Regions from separate parts of the Homo sapiens genome. Here regions 2 and 3 are each linked to region 1. The links come from fine-mapping of genetic effects on gene expression. A gene starts in region 1. Each other region holds a variant in brackets. All regions are shown on one strand. Distances are between the middles of the regions. Region 1 holds the start of PLEKHO1 (pleckstrin homology domain containing O1). Region 2 overlaps LINC02988 (long intergenic non-protein coding RNA 2988). Region 3 overlaps LOC124904413 (a long non-coding RNA gene).

Region 1 (4,240 bases):
CTAACCACTGTAGGGGCAATTCTGATTTCTCCACATTAGTACACGTTATTGATCCCAAGACTTAGGGAAAAAAGGGAGATGGGTCTGGATTCAATTATCATAGCTCAGGTCTTGACACAGTGTAGACTGTGGTTTTCATGGTTAACTACACAGCCAAAGCTATCCAAAGACATACAGGGGTTCTTAACTCCATTTCTCTCCCTTCTGATACAAATGGAGGGGTGGGCAGGAAGTGGGTAGAAAATGGGTTCCTTGCCTTTTTTAAATGGGGTGGGGGTGGGGAACAGAGAGCATACTGGTTAGGGACACTGGCTTCAACGAAAATAACTGCCACTCACACACCCGAGGTCACAGGGGCCTGACGGCGGGGTGCGTGTTTTCTGTGATTCAGGGCGGATGCGCCACGGACAGGACCTGTGCACGCTCCTGCCACAGACAGGAAAGGGGAGGCTGGCTGGGTTAAGGTGGGGGGACAGGAAGGGGTGGCGAATAGGCTAAACTGTTTCAGCAGAAATAGAAAAGAAATCCTATATGCAGGAGGCCAGGTTAGGGTGGGAGGCAGCAAGGGACACTTAGAACTTCTGGGGCATCTTGGGAGGGGCTTATCGTTGTTAGAAAGGTATTTGCAAACAAAAAAACACTGAGTAAGCGGCCAACTCAACTTCTAATTCTCACTCTGGTCTTCTCATTAAAGGGTGGCCTTTCTCTGCAGATGAGATGGGGGTAGAGAGGAGACCACTGAACTTGCCTTTGGAACAAAACGGGGGTGGAGTAAGCTAGGCGAGCCCTTGGGGAGTGACAAAGTGGGGGCTATGAGAAAACGGAGAGTTAGAGGCAAGAGGCACCCACCTCCTTCTCAGAGATGTAGAGCTGGTCCCCTTTCAGCACCACATAGCGGTTTTTCCAAATCTCCCTGAAAATCCCTTTCCCGCAGAATTTCCGGACCCAGCCGACCTTCTCGGGCGGTGCAGGCTGCTGGTTTCCATCCTGAGGTCCCTGCCCCAGGACAAGATGAGAAGCGGGCGGTTAGGAGATTCCAGCCGGCGCTTCCTCTCCGTCCGTCTCTCACGACCGCCTCGGCGGCCCAGTCTCCTCCGAAGGCTGCGGCCGGGGGGCGGGGGGCCGCCCCAGGTTCGCTCCCACTTCGGAAAGGTTTTCACTCCGAGGAACTCCCCCCGCTCCCCTCCCCCGCTCCCGAATAAACAACCGGGGCTGCAAGTGGCAGGGGCGCCGGCCGGGCGCGGAGAGGCTCCCAGGTTCCCTCCAGGCCCTGCGCCCCCGCCGCCCCGTCCTCGCCGCGCGGGGACTAACGGCGTTTCTCTGGTTTTCTCTCCCATTGTCTCCTCGCCACGGCGGAGCGCGAGGCAAACGCTCGCCCGGCGCCCGGGGGCGGGGGAGGTGCGGGTCGTGGGGAAACTCAGCCAAGTTGAAGCCCCCCGAGGCGAGTAAACAAACAAAAGCCCCCGCGGGCGCCTGGCGGGGCCGAGGCCGAGGGGACCGGGCCGCCGGGGCGGGGGCGCGGCCGGGCCGTGGGTCTCCCAGGCCGCCGCGGCGCCGACGGAGCGGGGGTCGTCAGAGCGCGGAGGCGGCGGCGGCCGCAGGGCGGGCAAGCGCACTCACCCGCTTGGCGGAATTGTTCTTCTTCATCATTCCCAGCGGGCGCGGGCGCGGGGCGGCGAGCCGAGGGGCGGCCCCGCGTCGGGGCCTCGGCGGCACCGCGGGGGCTCCTTCCCCGCGGGAGGGCGTCGGAGCTGCCCCGGCGCCGCCGCTCCTCCCTCGCGCCCTCCCGCTCCCGGACTCTCCCCTTCTTTGTAGCTCCGGTTTCACTCAAGGCCGGCCTCCCTCGCATTCGCACTCGCACACACACGCACGCCCGCTCCCCGCCCCTTGGCGCCCTCCATCCCGGCGCCCACGCGGCCCGGGTCCCCGAGCGCACCCCCGCCACCCGCCCGCCCGGCCCAGCGCGGCCGCTCCCCCGGCCCGGTGCGCTGTGGGCGGCCCAGTCCGCACCCCGCAGCTCCATCCGCGGGCCGCTGACGTTGCGAGTTCAGAATAAAGGGCGAATCGCGGAGCCGCAGCTCGGGCGCTCCCCCCGCCCCCCCGCCTTTGTTTCTGACTCACGGAGGGGGAAGAAGGCGGCTTCGAAGCGGCTGGAGACCGCTCCCCAGGGGGCAGGGACCCTCGCTCCGGCGGCGGCTCGGGCGACACGCGGAGCCCGAGAGACCCGGCCGCCGGCCGCCCCGGGGCCCAGTGGGCGGGCGCGGTGGATAATGGAGAGACGTGCGGATTCGTGAAGACTGGAGATCGCCAGCCTCTACAGCATCGCCTTACCCGACCAAAAACAAAAACGAGAGCGGGAACCGGGAGGGCGCGCCACCCACAACCCGCATCAGGAATTCACGCTCCTAGGTGCTAGGGTGGCCTGGGCAGGTCAGATGCTGGGGGAAAGTTTTATGCTCCGGAGGGGATCGACGTGTTGGGGGATGGGGTGGGACAGAAGTTGCTATTAATACACGTTTCTTCCAGCGTACAATGCCTCAGGCCTTATTGTAGCTTCAGGAGAATAATCCTAAGGATGAGGCGGATTTTATGATCTCCATCTCACAGGGAGAAAACGGAGACTCAGAATAGCTGAGGGATTTGCAGACACAGTGTCGATGCTGGCTTTTCAGACACAGTGTCAATGCTGGCAGGAATAGAACTCTGTCTCCAAACCATTATCCTTTCTACCAAGTGGCTTTCAATATAAGTTCCAGGTGAGGCTTAAACTTCCTGCCACCTGGGTATCTTTTCCCGCTATACTGATAGGTAAAAACCCCACCCTCTCTACAGCGCTGGAGCCCAGTGGAGGGAAGGGCTGAACGCCCAGAGAATGCCCTGACTAGAGAAGCCTCTGCTGATCCCTCCTACAGCAGATCTGCCTCAGAGCCTCCAGGACACATCTTAGTAACTTCATGTCTTTTTAATATATATACGTGTGATGGAAAAGGGGAGTGAGAAACCCCGCGCTTGGGTACTGGTTTCATCACCACTCTGGGCTTTGGTCAAGTCACTGAATTTCTTTAGGCCCGCGTCCCTCCACGTATTAAGTGGTGAGGGATGAACTGCCATTTTTATCAACAAGGAAAGCTAGGGGAAGATATGAGATGACCTCTGAGAGTCCTTTGAAGATATGTGTTGTCTTCCAGGGCTAATTTTGAAATCATAATAAGCTAATAAACACATTGCCTGGCATATGGCAAGCATGCAGTAACCACAAAATGAATAAAAATCCCTGGCACTGAGGAGCAGGGAAAAGGAAAAATCATTTTTCCAGAGATGTCTCAAGATAAAAGTGTTGGCTAGATTTGTGGTTTGAATAGTGGAGGCTCTTTTGACTTTTTCTGGTGTCTGTCAAATGAAGGAGGGGCTCCCTCTCTTTTCCAGTTCCACCTTTCCTCCTAATCCAATGATATTCCTCTCAACTTCTTTCCATTCACCATACCAATTAATTCCACGATTTTAGACTGACACAGAACTTTATCCTTTCAAAATGCTCTTATATGTCATTTCTTTACACTTTTAATGCCACCTTGTAAGGTATATAGAGTATTAATATTTCCATTTGGAAAATGAGGAAACAGGGCATGCCAGATAAACTGACTTGCCCAAGTTTATACATCAAGTTACTGGCTAAATGGATTAGAATCCAGGCTTCCTGACTGCAGTCTCCTCTTCAGATTTTGTAACCCCCTCCCATGGGCATGAGTGTGCACACACCACGTTCCCCAAACCATCTTGTCCCCTTTCCACCGTCTCTATTTTCTAACCCCCTGTTTAAAGAGCGATGAAAAAATAATGAGCAAATCCAGGGTGTCTTCATATGTGAGGATGCAAAATGTCCAAATGTACTGGTGAGCAAATAGCCTGCACGATTTTTTGAGGGCTTGCTGGACAAACACACAGGAGTGGTTTAGAGTTATCATTTAAATAGATTCTGATTTATGGGAAAAAAGTAATTCATCATTTGCCCCATCTTCCTCCTTTCCCAGTAGTTTCTATCAGTCAACAAATATTGGGCTGCGTGTGGTGGCTCACGCCTGTAATCCCAGCACTTTGGGAGGCCGAGGCGGGTGGATCATTTGAGGTCAGAAGTTCAAGACCAGCCTGACCAACATGTCGAAACCCCATATCTACTAAATACAAAAAAAAATTAGCTGGGTGTGGTGGCACACGCCTGTAATCCCAGCTACTTGGGAGG
Region 2 (4,240 bases), 27 kb before region 1:
TAAATTTTTTATAGAGATGGGCTCTCCCTATGTTGCCCAGGCTGGTCTCAAACCCTGGCCTCAAGTGATCCTCCTGCATTGGCCTCCCAGAGCACTGGGATTACAGGTGTGAGCCACCATGTCCTGTCTACTTTGTTCTTTTAATAGTCCATTGTTTGAATGTGTGCTCTCATTATTTATTTAAACTAGTCTCCTTTTTTTTTTTTTTTTTTTTGAGACAGGGTCTCGCTGTATTTCTCAGGCTGGAGTGCAGTGGCGTGATCTCGGCTCACTGCAACCTCTGCCTCCTGAGGTCAAAGTATCCTCCCACTTCAGCCTCCTGATTAGCTGAGACTACAGGTGTGTGCCAACACACCCAGCTAATCTTTGTATTTCTTTTTAGAGTCGGAGTTTCACCCTGTTGCTCAGGCTGGTTTCAAACTCCTGGGCTCAAGCGATCCACCTGTCTCAGCCTCCCAAAGTGCTAGGATTACAGGTGTGAGTCCAGCCAAATTGGTCTCCAAATTGATGTACATTGGGGCTGTTTCTAATTTTTGATATTTGAGTTAGATTTTTTAAAATTAGCTTTTAAATAAGGGAAGAGACACAAAATAATGAAGGAAGAATTCTAGGTGGTGAAAAAGATTTATACATAAATAGGGACCACTAGTGTCTTTGTGTCTGACGGACTACTCTTGACTCGCCTAGGCCATAGGATGAACATATTTATGAGGAGGGAGGTGGGAGAGTAGTGGGTGTTTCTGCAAACCCTTGAGTCTATGTGTAGAATTGGGATGTGACTTAAGAACTGGGCATTTCTAACAGGGTCAGAGTGAAGCTGGCTATAGCCACTTCTTCTCCAATTAAAGATCTTTCAGGGGAGCAGGCTGCCACAGCTGTGAACATTGATCATACTCCGCTCCAGTAAAAATGCCTTCCTGCCCGTGCACAGACGTCACCCTGTTGTATCCTAAATCCACCTGTTGTCATAGTTGTTTCTCTGGGAACCCCAGCCATAGTAAGAAATATGAAGTACTGGCCGGGCGCGGTGGCTTATGCCTGTAATCCCAGAATGTTGGGAGGCCGAGGCAGGTGGATCACAAGGTCAGGAGTTTGAGACCAGCCTGGCCAACTTGGTGAAACGCTGTCTCTACTAAAAATACAAAAATTAGCCGGGCACGGTGGCATGCACCTATAAACCCAGCTACTTGGGAGGCTGAGGCAGGAGAATTGCTGGAACCAGGGAGGTGGAGGTTACAGTGAACTGAGATTGTGCCACTACACTCCAGCCTGGGTGACAGAGTGAGACTCCGTCTAACAAAAAAAAAAAAAAAAAGAGAAAAGAAGTATTTGTGAAAGAAAATGTTTGCTGGCTTGGGTAGAAAGTTGTGTCAGGGAGGAATGAGAAATGGGCCATTTGTTTAAGGCCACCCCCGACTAGCTCTTCCTTTTCTTTTTTTTTTTTTTTTTTTTTTTTGAGACGGAGTTTCATTCTTGTTGCCCAGGCTGGAGTGCAACGGTCTGATCTCGGCTCACAGCAACCACTGCCTCCTGGGTTCAAATGATTCTCCTGCCTCAGCCTCCCGAGTTACAGGCATGCAACACCACGCCCAGATAATTTTTTCTTTTTTTGTATTTTTAGTAGAGATGGGGTTTCTCCATGTTGGTCAGGCTGGTCTCAAGCTCCTGACTTCAGGTGATCCACCTGCCTCAGCCTCCCAAAGTGTTGGGATTACAGGTGTGAGCCACGCGCCCGGCCAGCTCTTCCTTTTCATGTAAGCATGCTCTTAACTTTTCTGCTGGAGTTGGAGAAATTTGTTTTGATGCAGCCATCTGCCAGTTGCATAATCTTGGGTATGTTTCAACATCTCCAAGCTTCAGTTCCCCAT[C/T]AGTCAAATGGGCATCATAATTCCCACTTGGCACAGTGTTGGGAAGATTTATTGAGCCAATGTATGTGAAAGGGCCTATGTTTCATTTTACTTTTTTGCAAGGCCTTGTCACAATGGAGTTCCTAAGGCAATGTGTAATCCAACCCAAGATAATAGATACCAAAATGTTCTATTCTTTCCTGGGATGTGACTGCCAATGTTAGCCTCCCATACTCTCAGCCTGTGTGCTTTACTGAAACTGTCTCTGAAAGCTCATCACCTTCAGGTAATTCATACAAGATTTTTTTACATTTGTATAGTACTTTATAGCTGTCACAGAGACCTTAGCAACAATCATCTAATTTGAACCCCCTAGCAAACCTTCTGGGGCAAGGCACATTTTATCACCATGTTACATATAACATAAACGAGGCTCAGAGAGAATGATATAAAGAAACTGAGGGCCGGGCACAGTGGCTCACACCTGTAATCCCAGCATTTTGGGAGGCCAAGGTGGGAGGATCACTTGAGGTCAGGAGTTCAAGACCATCCTGGCCAACATGGTGAAACCCCGTCTCTACCAAAAATATGAAAGTTAGTCAGGTGTGGTGGCACACGCATGTAATCCCAGCTACTCATGAGGCTGAGGCATGAGAATTCCTTGAGCCCAGGAGGCGGAGACTGCAGTGAGCTGAGATCGCACCACTGCACTCCAGCCTGGGCGAGAGTGAGACCTTGTCTCAAAAAAAAAAAAAGATCCAGGTGCCATGTCTCATGTCTGTAATCCCAGCACTTTGGGAGGCTGAGATGGGTGGATCACCTGAGGTCAGAAGTTCGAGAGCAGCCTGGCCAACATGGTGAAACCCCGTCTCTAGTAAAAATACAAAAATTAGCCGGGCATGGTGGCAGGTGCCTGTAATCCCAGCTACTCAGGAGGCTGAGGCAGAAAAATCGCTTCAACCTAGGAGGTGGAGGTTGCAGTGAGCCGAGATCGTGCCATTGCACTCTGGCCTGGGCAACGGAGTAAGACTCTTGTCTACAAAAAAAAAAAAAGAAAAAAAAAGAAACTGAAGCTCAAAGAAGACAAATAATAAACAGCAGAGACCAGGAGTAGATTACTTCTAGACTACTTCAAGACTAAAGAGATGAGAGGTACCTTCCCTGACCTCAATCTGCCTAGGTTTAGAATTCTTGAGTCTGTTTCCCCAATCATGTTTTGCATCCTAGTAAAATGCATGCCACTTCTAAAATAATTTTTCTGTTGAAATAATAACATCAGCAGGCCGGGCGCGGTGGGTCACACCTGTAATCTCAGCACTTTGGGAGGCCGAGGTAGGTGGATCACCTGAGGCCAGGAGTTCGAGGCCAGTCTGGACAACATGGCGAAACCCTGTCTCTACTAAAAACACACAAATTAGCTGGGTATGGTGGTGGGTGCCTGTAGTTCCAGCTACTTGGGAGGCTGAGGCAGGATAATCATTTCAGCCTGGGAGGCAGAGGTTGCAGTGAGCTGAGATGGCACCACGGCACTCCAGCCTGGGTGACAGAGTGAGACTCCGTCTCAAAACAGCAACAACAAAAAGAAATAATAACATCAGCAAAATACTTCATCGTTTGTAAAACACCTTAAAATTGATGGATTCATTTGATTCTTACAGTAGCCTCCTGGGTAAGTAGAGCAAACATGAGTTATTCTGTTTTTCAGATGAGGAAATAGATGTGAGAATTGAGACCTGCCCAATGTCAAACAACCAAGGAGCAGAGCTGGAACGGGAAACTGACTTTCTGGGCAGCAACTTCAATGCCTTCTTATAGGTTCATTATTGTTGTTATACTTTTATTATGCTTCTATTGTGCTGTGTAATTTTTTTTTTTTTTGAGATGGAGTCTCGCTGTCGCCCAGGCTGGAGTGCAGTGCCACGATCTCGGCTCACTGCAGGCTCTGTCCCCCGGGGTTTACGCCATTCTCCTGCCTCAGCCTCCCGAGTAGCTGGGACTACAGGTGCCCGCCACCTCTCCCGGCTAATTTTTTGTATTTTTAGTAGAGACAGGGTTTCACCGTGTTAGCCAGGATGGTCTCGATCTCCTGACCTCGTGATCCGCCCACCTCGGGTAATTTTTTTTAAAAATTCAAATTAGTTAACCTCTTGTAGACATTCATTAAAATACATTTGTTGAGCACCTGTGTAAACTGCTCACCATCTAGTTGGGAGAAAGGTAAATAAACAGTTACAAAAACAAAACATACTTTGCAATTTGGAGACTTAATAAATGTTTTTGATGACAGTGTGATGACAGCTTGTACTCCAAAATTAATAATCACAATGAAGGCTGGGCGTGGTGGATCAAGCCTATAATCCCAGCACTTTGGGAGGCTTAGGTAAGCAGATCAT
Region 3 (4,240 bases), 120 kb after region 1:
GTAAATTTTATGGCAGTAGAAGGGAAAGTAACAGGCTCTGTGGGACAGCAGAAGAGCACTGAGCCAGAAACAGCAAGATGAGGTTAATGAGGAGTATAATGCAGGTAGTTGTCACCAGAGAAAAGTTTTGTTTAGGCCTAGCCTTGTGCCTCATCTAAAATATGGTGGCATCGTGCTCTTTCATGTTACTTAAATTTTTCTTTAATTTATTTAACAAATATTCGTTAGATTTCTTCTTGCTGGGCACAATCAAGAATACAATGAAAAATCAGATAAGGGGATAAAAATAAAAATAAAAAATAGAGGCCAGGTGCCATGGCTCATGCCTGTAATCCCAATACTTTGAGAGGCCAAGGCAGGTGAATCACCTGAGGTCAGGAGTTCGAGGACCCAGCCCAGCCAACATGGTGAAACCCTGTCTCTACTAAAAATACAAAATTAGCCAGTGTGGTGGCGGGCCTGGGTGACAAGAGCAAAAGTCTCTCAAAAAACAAAAACAAGAAAAACTGTGCAGTAACTGCACAGACAAAAATTCAAAGCTATATTCAATGACAAAACAGAACACATAGGTAAACAATAGTAATCATGAAAGGGTGACAAGTACAGCTGCTACAGACATTTGCTAGAACAGTTTCAGTGAACTGGTGGAAATGGAAGCCCAATTCAAGTGGTTTGAAGAGCAAATGGGAGTTGAGGAAGTAGAGAGGAGAGATTTGGTGTACATTTCAAGAAGCTCATTTGTGAGGAAGCTCAGCAGTTTAAAGGAGACACAGGTTCCAACGAATGTTTTATGAAGCTGACTTTTGCTTTATTTGTTTTAAAATGAGGGTGCTGTGGGCTGTAGGGAGGAATCCAGGAGAGAAAGAGAAATGGAAAATATAGAAGATAAATGAAACATTAATGGCACAAATTCCCTGAGGAAGCAGAAGGGGATAAAACTATGAACAATAACGGGGAATGTTAACCTTGAACAGAAGGGGCATTTCGAAGGGGCATTTCCTCTACGCTAGAGGGAAGGGTTTTTGTTCAGAAACTTGTGTGAGATAAGGATAGATTCAGCTGTAAACAGCCTTATAAATGTAGGGCCTGGAGGGTAAGGAAATTCCTTCCCATCCACACCAAGGCCTCAATTTTCTAAGTGAACTGGGAGATTAGGTCATCTTTTGAGAAGGAGCAAGGTGATGGTCATAAAGGAAGATGGTGGTTAAAGTTTAGAATCGTGACTGAAGGAATGAGAGAAGCGTTTTCTAACTTAAATTTGATATTTAAAAATTTGTATTGTTATCAATCCACAGGTGTAATTTTCCCCAGCTGTACTTAGAATGCAGTAGCAGAGAAATCAGTTTGACTGATCCAACATTAGGAGTTCATGAATTATGTATGTAAGGACAAGAGAGAACCAGTGCATGAACAGTTTGACTATGGGACCTGGGCTCTTCTAGATAGACTCAGAGAAAATGAAGATATCTAGAACTTGAGCTGGCTGTGGTGCTAAAAGAGGGGTGTGGAGAGTATGAGGGGTAAACAGATGGAGGGATAGGAGATTTGTATAGGTTGTGGATTACTGGACTTTTAAGATTTCAGAGACGACAGCATCTTTGGAGAACCCATTGCACCTTCCCTGCTATATGACCTAGGGTGAGTTACTGAAATATTTTGGATCCTCTGTTTCTTATATGAAAAATGGGAAGCCAAGAGAATGCAACCACCAAATTGCTTGTCCTGGAGACTGTGGACTCTGAGAGAATGAACAACCTCTACTGGAGACAGTGGCAAATAAACGCTTTCCTTGAGCTTTCTTTGGGCTAAATTGTTGAAACTTCTCTTGGACCCTCCAGTAAGTTCATTCTTGAGCTAT[T/G]GCTTCTAGAAATCTAAAGCATCCTTAAGCAATAGGGTCATAAATGCAGTTACTTACTATAGTTACTTATGTGCCAAACATAAGTCTTCTAAGTATCAAGAATGACCTCGCTTGAATCACAATTCAAATATAGATAGAATTGTTGGTGTTCCATAGCCTGCTGATATCAGAACCCTGGACAATGGGTTTAATCAAGCAACAGTTTGTGGGTGGATGGGTCCTTCTGTCAACATACCACAGTAGGGATTGTTGTTTTATCACTGAAACTTTCCTATTAAACTTATAACAATTTTGACAAAAATTATTCATCTAATTAACTGTATAGATAAATATATTCTCTCTGGTATCTTTTGAGATTTGGAAACAAAACTGAATTTCCTAACTCACCATCAATTCAACTATTTTTCTAGTATATTTATTGAATATAGCCGATACTAGAGATTATTAATATATAATTGTAATTCATAAAAACAGTACAGTTCACCAAATGTTCATCAGCATATGAATTGATAAAATATGCTATATATACACAATGGAATATTATTCAGCCTTAAAAAGGAAGGAAATTCTGACATATGCTACAATATGGATGAACCTTGAGGACATTATGCTAGGTAAAATAAGCCAGTCACAAAAAAAGACAAATACTATATGTATGATTTCACTTATTCAAAGTACCTAGAGCAACCAGGCGTGGTGGCTCACGCCTGTAATCCCAGCTTCTTGGGAGGCTGAGGCAGGAGAATCGCTTGAACCTGGGAGGCGGAGGTTGCAGTGAGCTGAGACTGTGCCATTGCACTCCAGCCTGGGCAACAAGAGCGAAACCCTGTCTCAAAAAGCACAAAGTACATAAAGCAATAAAAAATATAGAGACAGAAAGTAGAATGGTGGTTGCCAAGGGTTAGGGGGAACAGGGAGAATGGAGACTTATTGTTTAATGAATATAGTGTTTCAGTTTTGCAAAGTGAAAAGAATTCTGGAGTTGGATGGTGGTCATGATTGCACAACAATATTGATGTGCTTAATACCATTGAACTGTATATGGTACTTAAAAATGGCTAAGATACTGTAGTACATTTGTATTATGTGTATTTTACCACAATTAAAAAAAATGGAAAAAAAACCCACAGTGAAGTGTTTAATTTTTCTTTCACATTGCCTTTTCTCTTAATTTGGCTTTGCCCAGGTTCTCTTGAGAATCCCGAACCTTTTATTAGGCCAAATGATCTTGATTGTATTGAATCCAATGATCACTTTAGCTTGAGCTGGGCTCTACAGAACTTGTTAATGCTTGCTTGGCTCTATGTGTTTGGCTTCATGGTATCTGTTGTGTTAAGGATACTATTGACAACTGCATCCTAGAGCCTTGTCAAACCTGTTTGATTTAAATAAATAACTCTTTTGAGAAAAATAGTTATGTACAGATGATCTAGTGAAAACATAAGTATTATTGAATACCACCTACTATCTAAAAAGTTAATTTTCCTATTTAAGGGAATTCAGCCTAAAATTATGGTTTTGTGATTCAGATAGTGATATGTTATTTTGGATACTTCAGAAAGCTTTTTTAATTGTATTTTTTCCTTGTATTAAAAATGTCTGAGAAATTCATATGGTCTTGACTAATTAATCATCTCAATATTTTGAACTCACCAAATTAGTCAGTTTTTTAATTATTCTACTTAAAATCTCTCAGGATAAAATAGAATAGAATATAATTATTTCATAGGGAAATAATAAAGAAAAGAAATATTTCCAATTTGGAATTTTAAGAAAATACACTTTTTTTTTTTAGCAGTTATCCTTTTAGCACTAAAGGACACTAGCAGATTATTATAAGAAATCTTCTTTGGCAGATGAAGTTAGAAATGTCAAGTTGATCACTTCTGCTTTTGTGCCATTGATTATCTTATTTACTTATTTATTTATTTTTTGAGATGGAGTCTCACTCTGTTGCCTAGGTTGGAGTGCAGCGGCCTGATCTCAGCTCAGTGTAGCCTCTGCCTTCTAGGTTCAACCGATTCTCCTGCCTCAGCCTCTCAAGTAGCTGGGACTACAGGTGTGCACTACCATGCCCAGCTAATTTTTTGTAGTTTTAGTAGAGACGGGATGTCACCACGTTGGCCAGGCTGGTCTCAAACTCCTAACGTCAGGTGATCCACCCACCTCAGCCTCCCAAAGTGCTGGGATTACAGGTGTGAGCCACTGTGCCCGGCTTTACCTTTTATATTTCTGCATGGTATTATAATTATTTATTACCTCTCTGTATTCCCTATAGAAGATGAGGACCTTGAAGTTAGAGATAGTGCTATAATCTTATATCCCTAGAGCCTAGTTAACAGGTGCTAGGTTCGGTAGGTGATTGTTCAGAATCACCTGATA

Evidence for each region. PIP is the estimated chance that this variant, and not a neighbour inherited with it, causes the effect.
Region 2: its variant is the best candidate, but not a certain one, in a credible set for the expression of PLEKHO1 in whole blood (INTERVAL, PIP 0.83).
Region 3: its variant is the best candidate, but not a certain one, in a credible set for the expression of PLEKHO1 in whole blood (INTERVAL, PIP 0.71).

Annotation. Positions count from the first base shown.
Region 1 is chr1:150,147,668-150,151,907 of GRCh38, reverse strand. It overlaps PLEKHO1 (pleckstrin homology domain containing O1), which reads right to left and starts at 1,992. Exons shown (of 6, transcript NM_016274.6): 1 at 1,621-1,992; 2 at 850-996. The coding sequence starts at 1,650. RefSeq lists silencers at 1,685-1,764, 1,905-2,364 and an enhancer at 1,552-2,052.
Region 2 is chr1:150,174,419-150,178,658 of GRCh38, reverse strand. All of the region lies in intron 3 of LINC02988 (long intergenic non-protein coding RNA 2988), which reads right to left. Among named protein-coding and RNA genes, the nearest start is that of LINC02988, 16 kb to the right of the region's middle. The variant C/T (reference allele first, on the strand shown) is at 1,869.
Region 3 is chr1:150,027,139-150,031,378 of GRCh38, reverse strand. All of the region lies in intron 1 of LOC124904413 (a long non-coding RNA gene), which reads right to left. It also overlaps a transcript of OTUD7B not described here. Among named protein-coding and RNA genes, the nearest start is that of OTUD7B, 19 kb to the right of the region's middle. The variant T/G (reference allele first, on the strand shown) is at 1,859.